Homo sapiens: one gene and its partners. The protein of the gene in region 3 interacts with the protein of the main gene of each other region in a pairwise test. Each region holds a gene or a part of one and is shown on either strand. Other genes may lie near its edges.

Region 1 (4,867 bases), on a different chromosome or scaffold from region 3:
CAAGCAAACCACAATTATAGATAAAAACATAATATTAAATCTTCATGTTGGAGAATAAAGATATTTGGGACTTCTTTTAAGACTCAGAGACTTGCCGGGCACAGTGGCTCACGCTTGTAATCCCAGCACTTTGGGAGGCAGAGATGGGCAGATCACCTGAGGTCAGGAGTTCGAGACCAACCTGGCAAACATGGAGAAACCCCATCTCTACTAAAAGTACAAAATTAGCTGGGCATGGTGGCGCATGCCTGTAATCCCTGCCACTGAGGAGGGTGAGGCAGGAGAATTGCTTGAACCCAGGAGGCTGAGGTTGTGGTGAGCCAAGATCACGCCATTGCACTCCAGCCTGGGCAACAAGAGCGAAACTCCATCTCAAAAAAAAAAAAAAAAAGACTCAGAGACCTAATTCTCTGTTTTATATCGTAGCATTTCTCTCCTAGAAGCATGCCATATTCAAATAACTGTGCTGTAAGCTTTCTAGCCATGTTGTTGTGCCTTACAGAATCACTGAAATACAAGCACTTTTTCTTGTAGAGGGGATTTATTGAAGAATAAAGGAATTTTAAGTCAAAGTTGGTCTACCTTTCTCATTTTCTGGACGTTTGTGCCAGTTAGTAGTTCCTTTTTCTAAAAAGGCAGCAGAGCATTAGAATAAATTATTAAACTGCAGTCTACAAACTGCTTGGGAAGTATTTCTCTAAAATGTTTTTTTTATTATTTATTAGGTAAAGAAGCAGCTTTGAATCTGAGCTTCATATCGAAAGAAGAGATGAAAAATACCAGTTGGATTAGAAAGAACTGGCTTCTTGTAGCTGGGATATCTTTCATAGGTGTCCATCTTGGAACATACTTTTTGCAGAGGTCTGCAAAGCAGTCTGTAAAATTTCAGTCTCAAAGCAAACAAAAGAGTATTGAAGAGTGAAGTAAAATAAATATTTGGAATTACTAATTTGTCATTAAATCATTCTATGCTGATTAGCTTCATAAACATTGAACTTTTTGATTTTATAGCCACAATGCTGCATATTCATACTTTAATTCCTAAAGAATAATTTTTAATGTTAAAACGTGATAATGCAATAAATAGAAAAATGTGGTTTACAAAATAAAAACGGTCTTCACTAGTTACCACCTGAAGTAAGATGTCTCGTTTGGAAGCTAAGAAGCCATCATTGTGTAAGAGTGAACCACTGACAACTGAGAGAGTCAGGACCACACTTTCTGTCTTGAAAAGAATTGTAACATCATGCTATGGCCCCTCAGGTAGGCTGAAGCAGCTGCACAATGGCTTTGGAGGTTACGTGTGTACAACCTCACAGTCCTCAGCTCTGCTCAGTCACCTTTTGGTCACACATCCCATTTTAAAGATCCTGACAGCCTCCATACAGAATCATGTGTCAAGCTTCAGTGATTGTGGCTTATTCACAGCTATTCTTTGCTGCAACCTGATTGAAAATGTTCAGAGATTAGGCTTGACACCCACCACTGTCATTAGATTAAATAAACATCTTTTGAGTCTTTGCATCAGTTATCTCAAGTCTGAGACCTGTGGTTGTCGAATCCCAGTGGACTTTAGTAGTACTCAGATCCTCCTTTGTTTGGTGCGTAGTATATTAACAAGTAAACCTGCCTGTATGCTCACCAGAAAGGAAACAGAGCATGTCAGTGCTTTGATCCTGAGAGCCTTTTTGCTTACAATTCCAGAAAATGCTGAAGGCCACATCATTTTAGGAAAGAGTTTAATTGTACCTTTAAAAGGTCAAAGAGTTATAGATTCCACTGTATTACCTGGGATACTCATTGAAATGTCAGAAGTTCAATTAATGAGGCTATTACCTATCAAAAAATCAACTGCCCTCAAGGTGGCACTCTTTTGTACAACTTTATCCGGAGACACTTCTGACACTGGAGAAGGAACTGTGGTGGTCAGTTATGGGGTTTCTCTTGAAAATGCAGTCTTGGACCAGCTGCTTAACCTAGGAAGGCAGCTAATCAGTGACCACGTAGATCTTGTCCTGTGCCAAAAAGTTATACATCCATCTTTGAAGCAGTTTCTCAATATGCATCGTATTATTGCCATAGACAGAATTGGAGTGACTCTGATGGAACCCCTGACTAAAATGACAGGTAAAAATCACTCTTTGCTTTTGCCTCTTACAGTTAATAAATCACACTTTTTTGAGCAGAGATATTTTTGGTTTGTGTCACTGTTAACATCTTGAAAAATTGACCCAGCATGTGTCAGTATCATTTCTGGCAGCAAAGGTTTCTGGAAAAGATCCTGTATTGTTCACATACTAAAAATGCAGTGATTATAGCCATTTTCTATGTATTTTCAGCCCCCTAATGTACTATATCATCTAACCCCCAAATATTTTACAGGTTATTGAGAAGTCTAACATCCCCATAATCCTAAGGTCTTTCATACTTTACACAAAATTCTTCAGCCTCAATTGACAAAACTTTTAAATCATGTTATATTTAGAAAGTAATTTTGTAACTAGAATGACCCTTTTTCTTCACTTTGTCATAATTCCAGCAAACTTCTGTACTTCTCCTTAAGTAGTTGTTTCTAATGGGAGGGGGATGTACATGCACCTATGTTTTACCTATATCAAAACTGTTCCCACCTGACCTTGAGAACCAAGATCATCTTTTACTTTCAGCACCTATTACAGGCCTGGCCCACTGTGGGTGTTCTAAAGTGTTTGTTGAATTGACCGAAATATATTTGGTAATATACAGAACTAAAATAGGCAAAAAATTCACTGTATTTTACAAACTCAGCAAATTAAAAGCAGATATAAGTACTGTTAGAGCCAAAGAAAAATGACAAGCTGAAGAGTTCCTGATGTGAGCTACTTTTCAGTATCCTTTAACTGCTTTGACAATCTATCAGAAAGATGATCATTTAGTCTGCATTGTTTCCAATTTTTAAGTTACTAGACTTAAACCATTGTTAAAGTTTATTTAATAAAAGTCTTAGTATAAATTATCAAAAAGGAGCCATATGTATGCCAAGTGTTGAATACATAATATCTCTGGGTTATTGCCCTACCTTGGTAAGACTCAAATGACTGTCAAAAGTAGAGTTTCTTAATAATGGAAATAATTCCTTGGAACTCGTTGTTGGTATGGTAAGTCAGACTGATAGCCTTAAATATCTACTAGCTTTGCATGAATCTGGCAATTTCCAGTTTGTGAATACTGGGTCTTCCAGACTCATTTTTAAAATATGGGACACTTTAGCTGGGTGTGGTACATGCCTGTAGTCCCAGCTACCTGGGAAGTTGAGGCAGGAGGATTACTTGAGCCAAGGAGTTCAAGTCCAGCCTGGGCAACAAAGCAGGACTACATCTAAAAAAACAGAAAGGGCTGGGCGGTGGCTCATGCCTGTAATCCCAGCACTTTGGGAGGCCAAGGTGAGCGGATCACAAGGTCAGGAGATCGAGACCATCCTGGCCAACATGGTGAAACCCCATCTCTACTAAAAATACAAAAAAATTAGCTGGGCATGGTGGCCGCACTTGTAATCCCAGCTACTTGGGAGGCTGAGACAGGAGAATTGCTTGAACCCAGGAGGTGGAGGTTGCAGTGAACCGAGATTGCGCCACTGCACTCCAGCCTGGTGACAGCAAGATTCCCTATCAAAAAAAAAAAAACCAAACATTTTCCCGTAGAAACCATATTGTAACTGGGGGCTGGGTTTCCACACTAGCCCATAATATATACCTAAACATGGCATTAATAGCCATAGCTTTAGTCCTGGATCTTGGGAGCAGAGAGCTTTTGAGAAAAAAAGAAAAGGGGGAAAACTACCAGGCACATAGCGCAGGTAAACTTTTAGGTAGATGAAGTATGTTTTTGGCCTTACCTATCTCCCCTGGTAATCTAAGTTAACATTACCTCATTTCAGGCCTTCAAACAAAATTCCTGTTTATTAATGATATAGGTTGTGTAGTGGGTGTTACTGTGGATGGGTGCCACATGTGAAGCATATTGCAGCTTACAGAGGTTTTTGTTTGTTTTAAGGTGGAGTCTCACTCTATCGCCCAGGCTGGAGTGCAGTGGCGCAATCTCGGCTCACTGCAACCTCTGCCTCCTGGGTTCAAGCAATTCTGTCTCAGCCTCCCTAGTAGCTGGAACTACAGGCACACGCCACCACGCCTGGCTAGTTTTTTGTATTTTTAGTAGAGACAGGTTTCACCATATTGGTCAGGCTGGTCCTGAACTCCTGAGCTCAGGTGATCCACCCATCTCAACCTCCCAAAGTACTGGGATTACAGGCATGAGCCACCACGCCCGGCCTGGAGCATTTTTAACATTTGACTTGGTTTGATTTATTTGTGAAGTATGCATTATTATCCCCACTTGCCTCTCATGTGAGGGAGGCAGAAAAGTTAAATGACATGAGTGACAGCATCCAGTGGCTGATAAGCAGTAGAGCCGGCCTTCTCATGCAGAATCTGTTGTTCCCACCATGTGAAAGAAATTATACTATAAGATTTTGGGTTTTTTACTTAGATCACTTTTTTAAAGTATTCATTATTCTTGAATATTTCAGAAGTAAACAATATTCAAATAAGTGAAATTGTTTAGTGATTATATTCTATAAATTTTTTGAGATGGAAGTGTTTTTAGGCATTTTAGCTTTTTTTTTTTTTTTTTTTTTTTTTTTTGAGACAAAGTCTCGCTCTGTTGCCCAGGCTAGAGTGCAGTGGCGCAATCTCAGCTCACTGCTCACTGCAACCTCTGCCCCCCAGGTTCAAGCGATTCTCCTGCCTCAGCCTCCCAAGCAGCTGGGATTACAAGCACCTGCCACCACGCCCGGCTAGTTTTTGTATTTTTAGTAGAGACGGGGTTTCAC
Region 2 (4,867 bases), on a different chromosome or scaffold from region 3:
ACTGGTCTCGAACTCCTGGGGTCAAGTGATCCTCCCACCTCAGCCTCCCAAAGTGCTGGGATTACAGATGTGAGCCACTGCACTCAGCCTGAAAAGTCTTCACAAAGAATAAAGTTGGGAAGAATTTGGTGAGCAGTTCTCAAAACATACCACAAAGCAGCAATCATCAAACAATGTGTTATGGGAACAAGGACTCACAAAGCAGTCAATGAAATGTGAGACCCCAGAACACACTGTTCTTTTTTTTTTTTTTCCAAGACAGAGTCTCGCTTTGTCACCCAGGCTGAAGTGCAGTGGCACAATCCTGGCTCACTGCAACCTCCGCCTCCCAGGTTCAAACGATTATCCTGCCTCAGCCTCCCCAGTAGCTGGGGTTACAGGCGCTCGCCACCACGCCCGGCTAATTTTTGTGGTTTTTCTTTTTTCTTCTTTTTTGAGGCGGAGTCTCAGTCTGTCACCCAGGTTGGAGTGTGGTGGCGTGATCTTGGCTCACTGCAACCTCCGCCTCCCGGGTTCAAGCAATTCTCCTGCCTCAGCCTCCCAAGTAGCTGGGATTACAGGTGCCCACCGCCACACCAGGCTAATTTTTTGTATTTTTAGTAGAGACGGGGTTTCACCATGTTGTCCAGGCTGGTCTCAAATTCCTGACCTCGTGATCCGCCTGACTCGGCCTCCCAAAGTGCTGGGATTACAGGCGTGAGCCACCACACCCACCCAGATTGTTCTACTTCTAGACCTCGCTACAATGCTGACAGTTCCATGATAGAGTGAATAAAGATACGTTAGGCTGGGCGCGGTGGCTCACACCTGGAATCCCAGCACTTTGGGAGGCCGAGGTGGGTGGATCACCTGAGCTCAGGAGTTCACCATCACCCTGGGCAACATGACGGAAATACTGTCTCTACTAAAAATACAAAAATTAGCTGGGCGTGGTGGCGCACACCTGTAATCCCAGCTACTCAGAAGGCTGAGACAGGAGAATTGCTTGAGCCAGGGAGCTGAAGGCTGCAGCATGCGGAGATCACGCCACTGTACCCCAGCCTGGGCAATAGAGCAAGATTCTGTCTCAAAAAAACAAAAAAGGAGGGGAGGCCAGGTGCGGTGGCTCACGCCTGTAATCCCAGCACTTTGGGAGGCCGAGGTGGGCGGATCACCTGAGGTCGGGAGTTTGAGACTAGCCCGGCTAACATGGTGAAACCCCGTCTCTACTAAAAAATACAATTAGCCAAGTGTGGTGGCGGGTGCCTGTAGTCCCAGCTACTCGGGAGGCTGAGGCAGGAGAATGGCATGAACCTGGGAGGCGGAGCTTGCAGTGAGCGGAGATCGCGCCACTGGACTCCAGCCTGGGCAACAGAGCGAGACTCCGTCTCAAAAAAAAGAAAAAGGTATTTTAGATACTAACTTCATGGGACCAGCCAATGTGCACATCTACAAAAGTGCAACCCTGGAGATCTTCAGTTCTCCCTTCAAGCCCCATGAGAGAATCAGATGTTTAATTCCCACAGATCATTCAATGCACAATCACTGCGTGCCTACTGTGTGCCAGGCTCCAGCGCGCTGAGATGGACGGGTGCCCATCCAGGACCGGGGAACAGCCCAGAAGCCGCGTGCAACCCCTGGCCTCCTCCCCAGCACAAACGCCGACCCCTGCGCGACGGTCCAGACACTGGGGCCACCACCAAGGCCTGCTCCCAGCCTCCTCTCTGCCATGTCTCAGCTCACCCTGCACCCCCGCCAGGGACCAGGCCCAAGCCCAGGCCACTTGCTCTCCTCACAGCTGGCAAGGCCCGGCCCCTCTCTGCTCATCGGTGAACTCCAGACTTTATCCCAGCACCCCCAGTTCGTCCCGACATCCCCCCACCTTTTTTTTTTTTTTGAGACGGAGTCTCGCCCTGTCACCCAGGCTGGAGTGCAGTGGCGCAATCTTGGCTCACTGCAATTTCTGCCTTCCGGATTCAAGCCATCCTCCTGCCTCAGACTCTGAGTAGCTGGGATTACAGGTGCGTGCCACCGCGCCCAGCTTATTTGTGTATTTTTAGTAGAGACGGGGTTTTGCCACGATGGCCAGGCTGGTCTCAAACCCCTGACCTCAGATGTCTGCCCATCTCGGCCTCCCGAAGTGCTGGGATGATAGGCGTGAGCCACTGCGCCCGGCCTCAGCTGCTGTTTTCTTTCTCTCTGCTGTGTGGCCTGTGGCTGTCAGCAACCCATCGGGTCCGTTTGTTCCCACAGCCCCAGGACAGATGTGTCTGAGTGACCTTGTTTCAATCATGGAAACTGAGGCACAGAGCACTTGGGACACACTGCTCTGCGGACCTCTCAGCCCCAGGTCCCGCCAACACATCCAAGCCAGTACTTGTCCCTCCTGAGCCTGTCCTGGCTTGTGATGCTCCAGCCAGAAGTCTGGGGACCCCCACCACAGCCCCCCACGCCCTCACCTGCCAAGCTGCCTCCTCTCCTGGCCACAGGAACTCGCTTCCTCCAAAGAGGACCTGCATCCTCTACCCCTCATTTCTGCCGTCCCCACCGAGCCCGCTGCTGTCTCCTGCCTGGAGTCTGCAGCTGCTACTCCCCAGCCTCGCTCCTGGGCCCATCCACGGCGCGTTCCACCCTCAATGCGGATCTGGTCACACTGGGCCACAGGGCCTCCCTCACTCCTCCTGCTCCGGCCTTGCCATGGCTCCCACCTGCCCAGCCCCTCTGGGCTCTGGGCCTTCCATCCCTGAGCCTGGGGCACTGCACTCTCCATCAACATCACTTGCTCAGGGGGTCGTTCTGGACCAGGTCAGTGCCCCCTCTCCATTTTCAACCCTCCTGAAATGCTAAGGAAACACAGATGACCTTTCAACAAGGCAGGCTTCAACTGCACAGGTCCACTCATATGTGAATTTTTTCAATAAAGGCTGCCCCAACGGTGCCGGCCTCTCCTGCCTCCCCTTCCACCTCTGCCACCCCGGAGACAGACCCACCCTCCTGCTCCTGCTCCTCAGCCCTCAATATGAACACAAGGACACAGGCCTTCATCGTGGCCACCTCCACTGTGTGAACAGCAAACAGGATTTCTCCTTTTATTTTTTTTCCTTTTTTTTTTGAGACAGAGTCTTGCTCTGTCGCCCAGGCTGGAGTGCAGTAGCGCAACCTCGGCTCACTGCAACCTCCGCCTCCCGGGTTCAAGTGATTCTCCTGCCTCAGCCTCCCAAGTAGCTGGGACTACAGTTGTGCACCACCACACCCGGCTAATTTTTTGTATTTTTAGTAGAGACGGTGTTTCACCACGTTGGCCAGGATGGTCTCAAACTCCTGACCTCATGATTCGCCCGCCTCGGCCTCCCAAAGTGCTGGGATTACAGGCGTGAGCCACCGCGCCCAGCCTGTCCTTTATTTTTTTTGAGATGGTGTGTCACTGTGTCGCCTGGGCTGGAGTGCAATGGCGCAATCTCGGTTCCCTGCAACCTCCACCTCCTGGGTTCACGAGATTCTCCTGCCTCAGCCTCCTGAGTAGCTGGGATTACAGGTGTGCGCCACCACGCCCGGCTAATTTTTGTATTTTTGTAGAGACAGGGTTTCACCGTGTTGACCAGGCTGGTCTCGATCTCCCGACCTCGTGATCTGCCCGCCTCGGCCTCCCAAAGTGCTGGGATTCCAGGCGTGCGCCCCCGCACCCGGCCCCTTAGACTTTTCTGAATGTATTTTCTGTTCTCCAGCCTGTTATTGTGAGAACAGGAGGCTGGTGTGCATTGACCAAGTGTCCTCACAAGGCCTCCGGTCAGCGAGAAGCCATTCCTAGTTAAGTTCGTGGGAGTCAAAAGTTGTACTTGGATTTGAGCTGAGTGGGGGTCCACGCCCCTAACCCCGCATGTCGAGGGTCCGCTGTCCCAGGCCCGCCCACCTTACCTTGCTGCTATCTCCCGCTGGGCCTCATTGCCCTCTCCTGAGCCCCCCGGGGGCAGACCCCTCACCTACTTTTCTCCAAGGGGTCCTTGTCCTGCCTCCATCTTCCCCACTTTGCAACCGAGCCAGCGGTCCCTCAAGTGCAATCGCATACATGTCCCAAGGTCAGCCGGTGCCCGGGGCGCCCCACCTCCCCCCTCAAACAGAAAGCCTGGGATTCTCCAGCTGCACCTGCTGCTGGGTGAGTTCCAGCTGCATCCAACCTACCCCCTCCCCAAAGAGCACAAAGACCACCCAGGTGGAGGGAGCAAACCCACCGCCCCTCACTCCAAGCTAGGAGAGGCCCAGCAGCTAAGGACGACAGAGACAGGGACGGCGACACGGACGGCACAAGCCGTAGGAGGCCCCGGAACCCTCCAGGGGCAGGAACCTCTGCTAAGTACCGCCCAGGGCAGGACCCCACGAAAGGAGACCCAGCTGCCCATAAACACCCAGGAAGAAGCCAGAACACGTTAACAAAAGCACCCGAAGGTCAGAAGGGAGGGCAGGACCCTCCCCCTCCAGTGCCCGCAGCAAGAAAACCCAGCCCCTGCCCCCGACCAATGAGGGGCAGGGTAAGAGGGACCGGGGAGTGGAGGGAACCTGGGGCCTGGGGCCGGTACCCCGCACACTGGCAAAGACAGATACTGGGCCAAACCCACTTCTTTCCCAGAAAGGAGGGCTGGGGGCTGGGGAGGGAGGGACCCCGGAGCTGGGGGTCTCTGGGTTGGAAGGGCCCGGAGATGGGAGTCTGGGCAGGGGTCTAGGGTGGTGGCCTGGTGGCAGGGGATCATAGGATGGGGTGCAGGGGGTAGCAGGGCCCAGGGGAGACAACCTTCTGCAGAGTCCAGGGTCCAGAGCCTGGCAGTGGCGGAGCTGGAGGTGGGTGGTCACTGAAGTGGGAGGTGGCAGGGCCCAGGGGTCTCTGGCTGAGGTG
Region 3 (4,867 bases):
AGTGCTGGGATTACAGGCATGAGCCACTTTGCCCAGCTGACAACTGTTATTTCTAATAGAATATTTTCTTCATTTTTAGGAGAACTATATTTTTGACCATCTCTTCTTTTATAGAAATGTTTGCTTCTAAAAGGAGATGCCACTAAATCACTTAGCACAGTCTCTGGCACATAGTAAGAGGGAGTTCAATTAATATTAGTTTTAGCTCTTTTCTCAGTTTTCTTTCTCTCTTCTCTTGATCATTCATTGGTTCAATAATTTGGTTAATATTCATCATGTTTCTACTATTCATTAGACAATAAGGATACAGATTAAAAAACACAGATCCTGCAATTAAGGTGCTCAGGAATGAACTTGGTTATATCTGGAAGTTAAGGAGTTTTCTGTATGTTGATTAGGTTTTCCTCCTTTCATTCAGAAAAAAAAGTGAAGAAGTCTGACTGTGGAGAATGGCAGTGGAGTGTGTGTGTGCCCACCAGTGGAGACTGTGGGCTGGGCACACGGGAGGGCACTCGGACTGGAGCTGAGTGCAAGCAAACCATGAAGACCCAGAGATGTAAGATCCCCTGCAACTGGAAGAAGCAATTTGGCGGTAAGCCTCATGCTACTGAGTTAATCTCCTACTCTGAGATAATTCTCAAATTTTTCCACCAAATGTCTTTTTAAGGATAAGTACTTTTTATTTTAAATAACTTTATCTTACCAGACACAAAGTGACCAGACTGGTCCCATTTCAGGCCAGGCAATTATTTGTTGTGGAGGCTGTCTTGTGCATTTTAGGGTATTTAGGAGCATCGCTGGCTTCTACTCGCTAGTTTCCGGTAGCATTCCTCACCCGCTCCAGATGTGAAAACTAAAAATGTCTCCAAATATCTATGGCCAAATGTACCCTGTTGGTCAAAATCATCCCTGGTTGGGAACCACTGCCTTTCCAAAGGGACATAAAATATATCCTTGATTCCTCTGAATAATGTTAATTGATCTGTCTTCTCTCTCCTTTCTTCTATTTCTAAGTTCCTTTGATTTTTCCTTTCCCCTTTTCTTATTTATTCTCCTGCTTCTCCATGTTTCTCCCTGTCACTTTCAGACCTTCTCTCCCATTTGATCCCTCCCCAACCTCCACACAGTTTCACAGATTCACTTACTGAGTTCAGCAGGGCTGCTCACAGCCACGTTTCATAAATCTTTCTCCCACTGACTGGAGTCAGTCTTATGCTGGCCTGATCTATCTATCTGAGACAGGATCTCTCAACACTTTCAACTTTATATCCAGTATTGAACCCTCAAATAACCTCTTCCACAATCCAGACTTTTTGTCTTTCTTAGCCATAGTGGGACATGATGCCTGAAATGTCCTATCTGTGTTCTATGGAAATGCATTGTGGCCCATAGACAAGTGAGGAAGGATAATGGATGTATACATGTATGTCTTTTTCTCCCTCTGTAATCTTTGGGGTATTTTTTATTTGAATGGATATAGACAAGTTCTATAAAAGTGTGATGGAGAACAGGTACATTTGGTCTTAAATTGTATATGGGCACCTTAAAAACCCACTTACAAAAAGTTTAAAAGGTATATCTTAAAGACTTACATTGAGAATATTAAATAACTCTCAAACTCAACAGTAAACAACAAAACAACAACAACAAAAAACAAAACAAACAAAACCTAACAGTTCAATAAGAAAGTGGGGAAAAAACATTAACAGACATTTTACCAAAGAGGATATATAGGCAACAAATGAACTCCTGAAAATATATTCAGCATCTTTTCCTTATTAGGGAACTAGAAATTGAAACCATAATGAGATATCACTCTACATCTATCAAAGTGGCTAGAATAAAAAATAGTGACAAGACGAAATGCTAGTGAGGGTGCCAAGAAACCAGATCCCTCATATGTTGCCAGTGGAAATTGTAAGGTGGTACAGCCACAGTGGAAAAAGAGTATTGCAGTTTTTTACGAAATGAAACATGCATTTACCATGTAACACAGCAGTTTCTTGGTAATTTATCTCAGAGAAATGAAAACTGATGTTTCCACAAAAACCTATACATGAATTTATATAGCAGTTCTATTTGTAGTAACCCAAGGCTGGTAACAACTCGGATGTCCTTCAGCTGATGAATGGTTAAACAAACTGGGGTACATTGGGACCATGGAATACTACTCAGCAATAGGAAGAAACAGACTATTGATGCACATGACTTGGATGGATCTTCAGGAAATTATGCTAAATAAAAAAGCCAATCTCAGAAGTTTACATATTGTAGAATTCCATTTATGCAACATTTTTAAGCTAGAAAAATGATAGAGCTAGAGAACAGATAAGGAGTTGCCGGGGATTAAGGAGGTGGGGAAGGAGGAAGGTGGCTAGGCCATGACTATAAAGAATGACCCACTGTTGTATTGGGACTGTATATTAATAGTGTATATTAGTGTGTATTAATGGTGTATATTGATGGTGATCGTATGCATCTACACATGTGATAGAATTGAACAGAAATCAATACACACGCATACACTCTGTATTATTTCTTATAGCTGCATATGGATCTATAATTATTTCAATAAAAAAGTTACAAACAAAAGTGTGCCTTTATTATCCTGGAAGTACGATAGGATCTTTCAAGGATTTCTGTTTGGTTCTACCCTGCCTTTAGCGGAGTGCAAATACCAGTTCCAGGCCTGGGGAGAATGTGACCTGAACACAGCCCTGAAGACCAGAACTGGAAGTCTGAAGCGAGCCCTGCACAATGCCGAATGCCAGAAGACTGTCACCATCTCCAAGCCCTGTGGCAAACTGACCAAGCCCAAACCTCAAGGTAAGTCCTTGCCATTATACCACAATTTTAATGGATTGATGGACTCAGGTAAGATCTGGAAAACCCACATTTTCCAGAAGGAAATATTAGGTGAATTACCTTAAGAAAGTGACTGAAAAACTCCCCTACACTGAGAGTCACAAAAATACTTTAAAAATACTTTGAAGCAGGCAGCCTGTGAGTGCAAATTGAAGTCCTCTGCATAGATGAGGGGATTGGTACAGTCTCCTAACCCAAATAAATAACATAGCAAAAGAAACCAGCAAAGACAGTTGTATGATGACCATATATTCCACACTCTTAATTGGAACTGTATCCTGACAAGAAAAACAAACTCAGAATGTTTATGACGGAGACAATTTTAAATCAAACTTCTCCCAGATTATCTGAAATATAGTTTTCACAAAATCAGGAAAATTATTTTACATTTTCCCTTTATTCACTGCATAACTTAATGGGTTCTGCATTTGTTTTCAGAGCCTTTATATTTTTTGAGTTCAATTTGGTTACCAACTACATTCATCACAGAATTTTTAAATGACAGAGATCTGTATCTCCCAGAAAGTCAGGCTCTGCTCTCTTGCTGGAGAAGGTAAAAACAATCATTATGGCCATGAATTCATACATACAAGGATCCCAACTGAGGGAAATAAACTCTTTCATCATGGATGTTATTGTCTGAATTGTGTTTTCCCAAATTCATATGCTGAAGTTTTAACCCCCTCACAATGTCACTGTATTGGAGACAGGGTCTTTAAAGAGGTAATTGAGATAAAATGCAGTCACAAGGGTAGGCCCTAATCCAGTGCAGCTGGTGTGTTTATAAGAAGGGAGATTAGGACACAGAAATACATAGAGAGAAGACTGTGTGAAGACAGAGGGAGAAGAATGCCATCTACAAGCCATAGGGAGAACCTTCAGAAGAAATCAGCCCTACAGATGCCTTGATCTTAGGCTTGTAGCTTCCAGAACTGCAAGACAATAAATAAATAAATTTCTGTTGTTTAAGCCACCAACTCTGTGGTACTTTGTTATAGGAGCTATAGCCAACTAATACAATGGGACTCAATGAACTCTAAATTCAAATACCTTCTTGGCCTCTACTCATATATTTTAACTCTAAGGTGGTCCTGAAAATTCATACTGCCAGAGAAATTGTAAGGAGAGATTCAGAAAAATGACCATGTAAGAAATGCTCATAATAAATAAAAGTAGAAAAAAAAAATCTGCAGAAGGTGATGGAGATTGGCTGGTTTCCTGCTGGTGGCCAGAAAGGACTTTATTTTTCACAGGCCTGGCTTTTTGGCCACTGCTGGAGTTGTCCATAGAAATAGTTATCTCCAACTTCAGGATGGCCAGGTACAGGCTGGACCTGCAGGTGGTGAGTCTAGGGTTCAGGCTGCCCTTTCCAGATCATGGAAATCTCTGCCTGTTGTCATATGGTTTTTGGAAGGCATGAAGCAGGGCTGGAGTGACTGCAGTGAGTACTTATGCAGACTTCCCAAATGTCATTTGTCCAGAGACAACCACATAAATCTAAGCAAAATCAGTGCCCTATCTACCAAGTGAAACATTTCCAAAAATGGCAAAACTCAGAGTTACTGTAGTCAAAATAATTTATTTTTAGTCCAGCTGTAGAACCAAAATATTCAGCATAAATACAGAATTGAAAGGAAAAGAAATTAAAGAAGCTTCCACATTCTAGCACAGTGATGCTCAACCTGGGCTTCACATTAGAATATTCTGTGGGAACTTGCAAAACTCCCAGTGCCCAAGTATAGCACAGACTAACCCAATCAGCATCAGTAGTTTAAAAATTGTGAATGCATCTCAGAAGGTTTCATGATGCAGCCAAAATTGAGAACTACTGCTCTAGTATGGAATCCATTGACAAGAGACCACACACACATGCATACACATGTAACACACACACACACACACACACACACACACACACGTGCACTGTCCTGTTCTTTCCTATGGGAAAGAGAAAATTCAACTTTATAATAAGGGAGAAAAAGTGGGGACATGATTAGGTGGA
Region 4 (4,867 bases), on a different chromosome or scaffold from region 3:
AAGGGAGCAGTGTGCATAGAACGGCAGAGCAGTGTGCATAGAACGCTGCCTATTGTGTAGGAAAGGGAAACAAAAATATACACATATGCTTACATTTGCAAAAATGAAATATCAGAAAAACAAAGCAAAAACAACTGGGGCAAGAGAGAAATTCGTGGAGGAACAGAATTAAAGTGAAGCTGTGAACATAACTTTTTAACACAGATCAGATTTTTTAACTACATAAATGTTCACATAAATGTTCTACATGTTAAAAAATACATTAAATAGGCCAGGCGCGGTGGCTCACGCCTGTAATCCCAGCACTTTGGCAGGCCGAGGCGGACAGATCACGAGGTCAGGAGATCGAGACCATCTTGGCTAACATAGTGAAACCCCGTCTCTACTAAAAATACAAAAATTAGCCGGGCGTGGTGGCGGGCACCTGTAGTCCCAGCTACTCAGGAGGCTGAGGCAGGAGAATGGCGTGAACCCGGGAGGCGGAGCTTGCAGTGAGCCGAGATCGCACCACTGGACTCCAGCCTGGGCGACAGAGCGAGACTCTGTCTCAAAAAAAAAAAAAAAAAAATACATTAAATAAAAAACTAAAGCAATTCTTAAAGGAAGAATTTCAGGCAAACAACCCAAATTAATTATCAAACATATAACATAATCAGAGAAAATCTTTTCAAATGGCCTTCCAAATTAGAATGTCAACTGTACATGCTTATGTGGATATATTTTAAGGAAAAAACCATAACCAAACATAAAGCTACAGTTGCTTATTAGTGTTATTTTCAAACTACATTTATACTGTAAGATAATGCAATTATATTAATGTTGCTAAGAATGTAAATTTTCAACGTTAGAGAAAAAAGGATAAGCTCATAGTAAAAACTCTGTGATGTTAAATTCGAACTGGAAATACCAATATAAAAATCAAAATCTGTATGCTTCCCATGGCTGTCCAATAAAAGCATGGGCATTCTAACAGTAAGAACATATAACACCCAGATTTCTGTATCTAAATTCTAATCCTCAATAAAGCAAGCTGAAAGACTCGGTTGATAGGTATTTGGCAGGAAAAGCACAAAGTGAACCTTAGACATCTTGTGTCAGAAAGCAAGAAAAGCTTCAGAGATTACGTGTCATGTCAAAGGAAAGAGAACCAGGTTGAAAGGACCTCAACATGTCCAAGTTGTGAAAAGCTAAGGAAAAACAGTGAGTATTTGATTAAAACACTGGATAAAGCCACACATGGTGGCTCACACCTGTAATCCCAGCACTTTGGGAGGCTGAGGTGAGAGGATCACTTGAGCTTGGGAGTTTGAGACCAGCTGGACCAACAAGGTAAAACCCCATCTCTACTAAAAATACAAAAAATTTGCCAGGCATGGTGGTGCACGCCTGTAATCCCAGCTGCTTGGGAGGCTGAGCCAGGAGAATAGCTTGAACCCGGGAGGCGGAGGTTGTAGTAAGCCAAGGTCACACCACTGCACTCCAGCCTGGGTGACAGAGCAAGACTGTCTCAAAATTTAAAAAACCAAAAACACACATTGGATACATAAAAATCCATGGGTCTACAATGATGCTAAAGAGAGAAAGAAAAAAGTAATTCAAACCCCTCCCTCCAAAAAAAATCAGCTCTGGAGAGATGGCTGACGCCTGTAATCCCAACACTCTGGGAGGCCGAGGCGGGCAGATCACAATGTCAAGAGATCGAGACCATCCTGGCCAACATGATGAAACCCCCGTCTCTACTAAAAATACAAAAATTAGCTAGGTGTGGTGGCACATGCCTGTAGACCCAGCTATTCGGGAGGCTGAGGCAGGAGAATCGCTTGACTCCCGGGAGGTGGAGGGTGCAGTCAGCTGAGACTGCGCCACTGCACTCCAGCCTGGTGACAGAGGGAGACTCCGTCTCAAAAAAAAAAAAAAAAAAAAAAAAAAAACCCAAAAGCAAGAAAAAGGACATTCTTTTCTCTCCTTATTGCCTGTGTCAGGTTAAGCAACAGTAATTCAAATATATGATATGATTTGTTAAATCATTTGCAGACAGGCCCAAGCATAAACAACTACAAAGAAATATAACCTAGTTTTAAAAAAAAAATTGCCTATTTTGTTAACACGCTACTATAACATCTCAAATGGTAAAAAGATGCCTTACTAGTCTTTTCATGTATTCTCTCACCATTTGGATAAAATAATATTTACATTGAGTAAATTCTTCCTCCTCCCCTCCCTTCAGGAAAAAAAAAAAAAAAAGCACATTTAACATAACATTAAATATTCTGAGTTCAGACCAATACCCCATGCCTTAAATGACTTCACCAGCTTCTCTAACAGGCTAGACTCTGGAGATTAAAGATCCTACATGGGCAGGTTCCTCCAACTCACCTTTCATACTGTTCTAAAACACAGGTCCAATCCTGCCCCTGCTTTCAATGGTTTCCCTCTGCCTACAAATTCAACACCAACCACCTTAATGTTACATGCAGAATTTAAAAGGTGGCCCCCAAATTCATCCCTAGACAGATCAGCCATAGGAAAGAAACTACAGGTGGTGTAGGCAGTGGTGACATCATCATCAATATCAACTGGGCATTTACTGTACACCAGGAGCCTATGAAACATTTTACTTCATTTAAGCTCACCCCTGATGAGGTAGGTGTTCTCGTCCCCTGCTATACATAAACACACTCACAAAGGAGGATAGATAGAAAATAGTAGCTAGGTAGATAGGTAGAAAAAGAGGGAGGAAGGAAGGAAGGAAGGAAAGAAGGAAGGAAGGAGGGAAGGAAGGAGAAGAGAGGAGAGGAGAGGAGACAGGTAACAAGGGGCTAACTTTTGGCTGGGATTGAAATCCCCGATGGCCTCTTTAACTCCTCTCATGCCTCTGTTCCTGCTTTCCCCTCCATCCAGATGTCTTTCTTCTCCCATTCTGATAATCTATGGAATCACCTTCTCTTCCCAGATACCTTCAGCACAGAATTCCCTCATTATATGCATGTGTATCTCCTCTATCAGACTATAAAGTCTGTAAGGATACATCTGTGTTTATATATTTAGCCAAACACGACTTGTTCTATAAAGGGTTTACGGCAATTTTAAGGTCATGAACAGGCTCCCAGTAAAAACATAATTTAACATTAAATTGGACTGAATACTGATGCACAACTAAGGAAACTGTTTACCTCAACATTAAAAAAATGCTAATAACTACAGCTAAGTTCAAAAGTAGAAAGGAGAAGGAAATCAACATCTACTGGCGTCAGCTGCTGTATTTCAGGAACTGTACTGAGAACTCTATAAATCCATTTCATGTAATTCTCAGAACAGACTTACACCATAGGTTTTATCCCAGTTTATAGGTAAGGAATTCAAGGTTTTAAAAGGCTTTGCGGGTTGGCTCTTTCACCAATATTTGCTGGAGTTTGGGTTTTCAGGCTCTTTCTGGGTCATAGATTTCTTTCCAGGATACCTTGTAGCAATTTGAGAGCTGGCATCACTTCCCGCTGGGTCCCAAAGATGCAGGAAGAGCTTAGTACTGTTGACTAGACCGCGGATGGACCCACCACAAAAGTTTAACCCAACCTTGACCCCAGAATCTTCACAAATGCTCAGTGAAGAAAATCCCCAGGACGACTCGGGCCTCTCTTCTGCTCAGAGATGTCAATAAAGAACTTCAGTAGCGTGACTTTCAACCCTAGTACCAAATTCCCTTCCCTTCTACCAGAAGATTCATCCCAACAACTGGATAGAAGAGAAACGACCTTCCAGGACATCAGAGATGGCTTGCCTCAGGAGTAGAAGTAAGAACGCTGCTACCTATGCAGAAAGGAAGTATGGCAAAATTGAGATACCTGTTACTCAACAGATGTTCTTGGCTTGAAAAACTAGTAGACACTGGGCCAAAGGGAGAGTTCAGAATGAATCAAGAAGGGAACCATTCAAATGTGGCTGCAGTTTCTGTTATCATAGATAGCCTGAGAATGCTACAACAGGGAATCATGACACCAAGCCAATTCAACCATAAACTGTCATTCTTGTACTTTTTTTTTCTTGCTGGTAATTTTATGTATTAGGTTGAGAAAGCTAATCTATGTTAGAAGAGCCTGTATACCAATAATTTTAATAAACAGTTCTGTGATTTTTTTGGGTATATTTTCATTTCTACCATACCACCAATAATTTATCAGAGATCTATGTAGCTTGAATGTATTTGAGTAACTTCAACATACTTCAGCTCTCCTCCCTGATGTGACCCAAAGAGCCAGTAGGTCCTAAGTGTCCTATGTGTGTTAGAAGCCTGAAGTCAGTGAGATGAAGCCCAACCCAAGAGTTCAAGTAAAGCAACTTGTGGGGCAAGAATATAAAGAAAACAGTGGGTAGTTTGGCAAGAGCATAATTATTAAATTTTCTGGTTTTCAAAAATGTGAACTCCAATAAGAGGACCTTCAATGTGCTGTTTTTGCAATTTTCAGTAACAAATGTGTGTACAGAGAAAATAAAACTGACATATTTGAGTAGCTTTAAAAAAAAACTTTTTTTAAAAAAAGGCTGCATGATGAATCAGTTATGTGGCTTTGGACCAGTAAGGAGTCAATTTCAACCCAGACTGTTCTGACTTGGAAGGCCATTGTGATTCCATGTCTAACTCCAGAATATTGTTTTCACAATACCATAACATCTTCTAAACTGAACAAAATACTTGCACGAAATAGTTGATTCTCTTCTTCCAATTTCTTTTCATTCATGGAAAGGGAAAGAAGACACATTGAATTAAGCATCCAACAAATATAAATACAGCATTAACATTTAAATGCTATCTCAGCAAATATTTTAAAGGATAAACCAAAAGAATGTATATCGAATATACTAGAAAAAA

The links. The genes of interacting proteins can lie anywhere in the genome.
Region 1: the proteins of PTN (region 3) and MKKS interact in a two-hybrid assay, tested with the Homo sapiens proteins (one large-scale study listed by BioGRID and IntAct).
Region 2: the proteins of PTN (region 3) and BTBD2 interact in a two-hybrid assay, tested with the Homo sapiens proteins (one large-scale study listed by BioGRID and IntAct).
Region 4: the proteins of PTN (region 3) and SPIN1 interact in a two-hybrid assay, tested with the Homo sapiens proteins (one large-scale study listed by IntAct).

Annotation. Positions count from the first base shown.
Region 1 is NC_000020.11:10,409,790-10,414,656, reverse strand, and holds part of MKKS (molecular chaperone MKKS), read left to right. Parts: intron 1-725; 5' UTR 726-769; coding exon of another isoform or gene 770-922; 5' UTR 923-1,142; coding exon 1,143-2,127; intron 2,128-4,867. Other genes in the region: uncharacterized LOC128706666, read left to right, coding at 770-922. UniProt on the Homo sapiens protein: Probable molecular chaperone that assists the folding of proteins upon ATP hydrolysis. Plays a role in the assembly of BBSome, a complex involved in ciliogenesis regulating transports vesicles to the cilia.
Region 2 is NC_000019.10:2,008,782-2,013,648, forward strand, and holds part of BTBD2 (BTB/POZ domain-containing protein 2), read right to left. Parts: exon of another isoform or gene 4,766-4,867; intron 1-4,765.
Region 3 is NC_000007.14:137,249,189-137,254,055, reverse strand, and holds part of PTN (pleiotrophin isoform 1 precursor), read left to right. Parts: intron 1-418; coding exon 419-592; intron 593-2,664; coding exon 2,665-2,826; intron 2,827-4,867.
Region 4 is NC_000009.12:88,390,510-88,395,376, reverse strand, and holds part of SPIN1 (spindlin-1), read right to left. Parts: intron 1-4,867. UniProt on the Homo sapiens protein: Chromatin reader that specifically recognizes and binds histone H3 both trimethylated at 'Lys-4' and 'Lys-9' (H3K4me3K9me3) and is involved in piRNA-mediated retrotransposon silencing during spermatogenesis.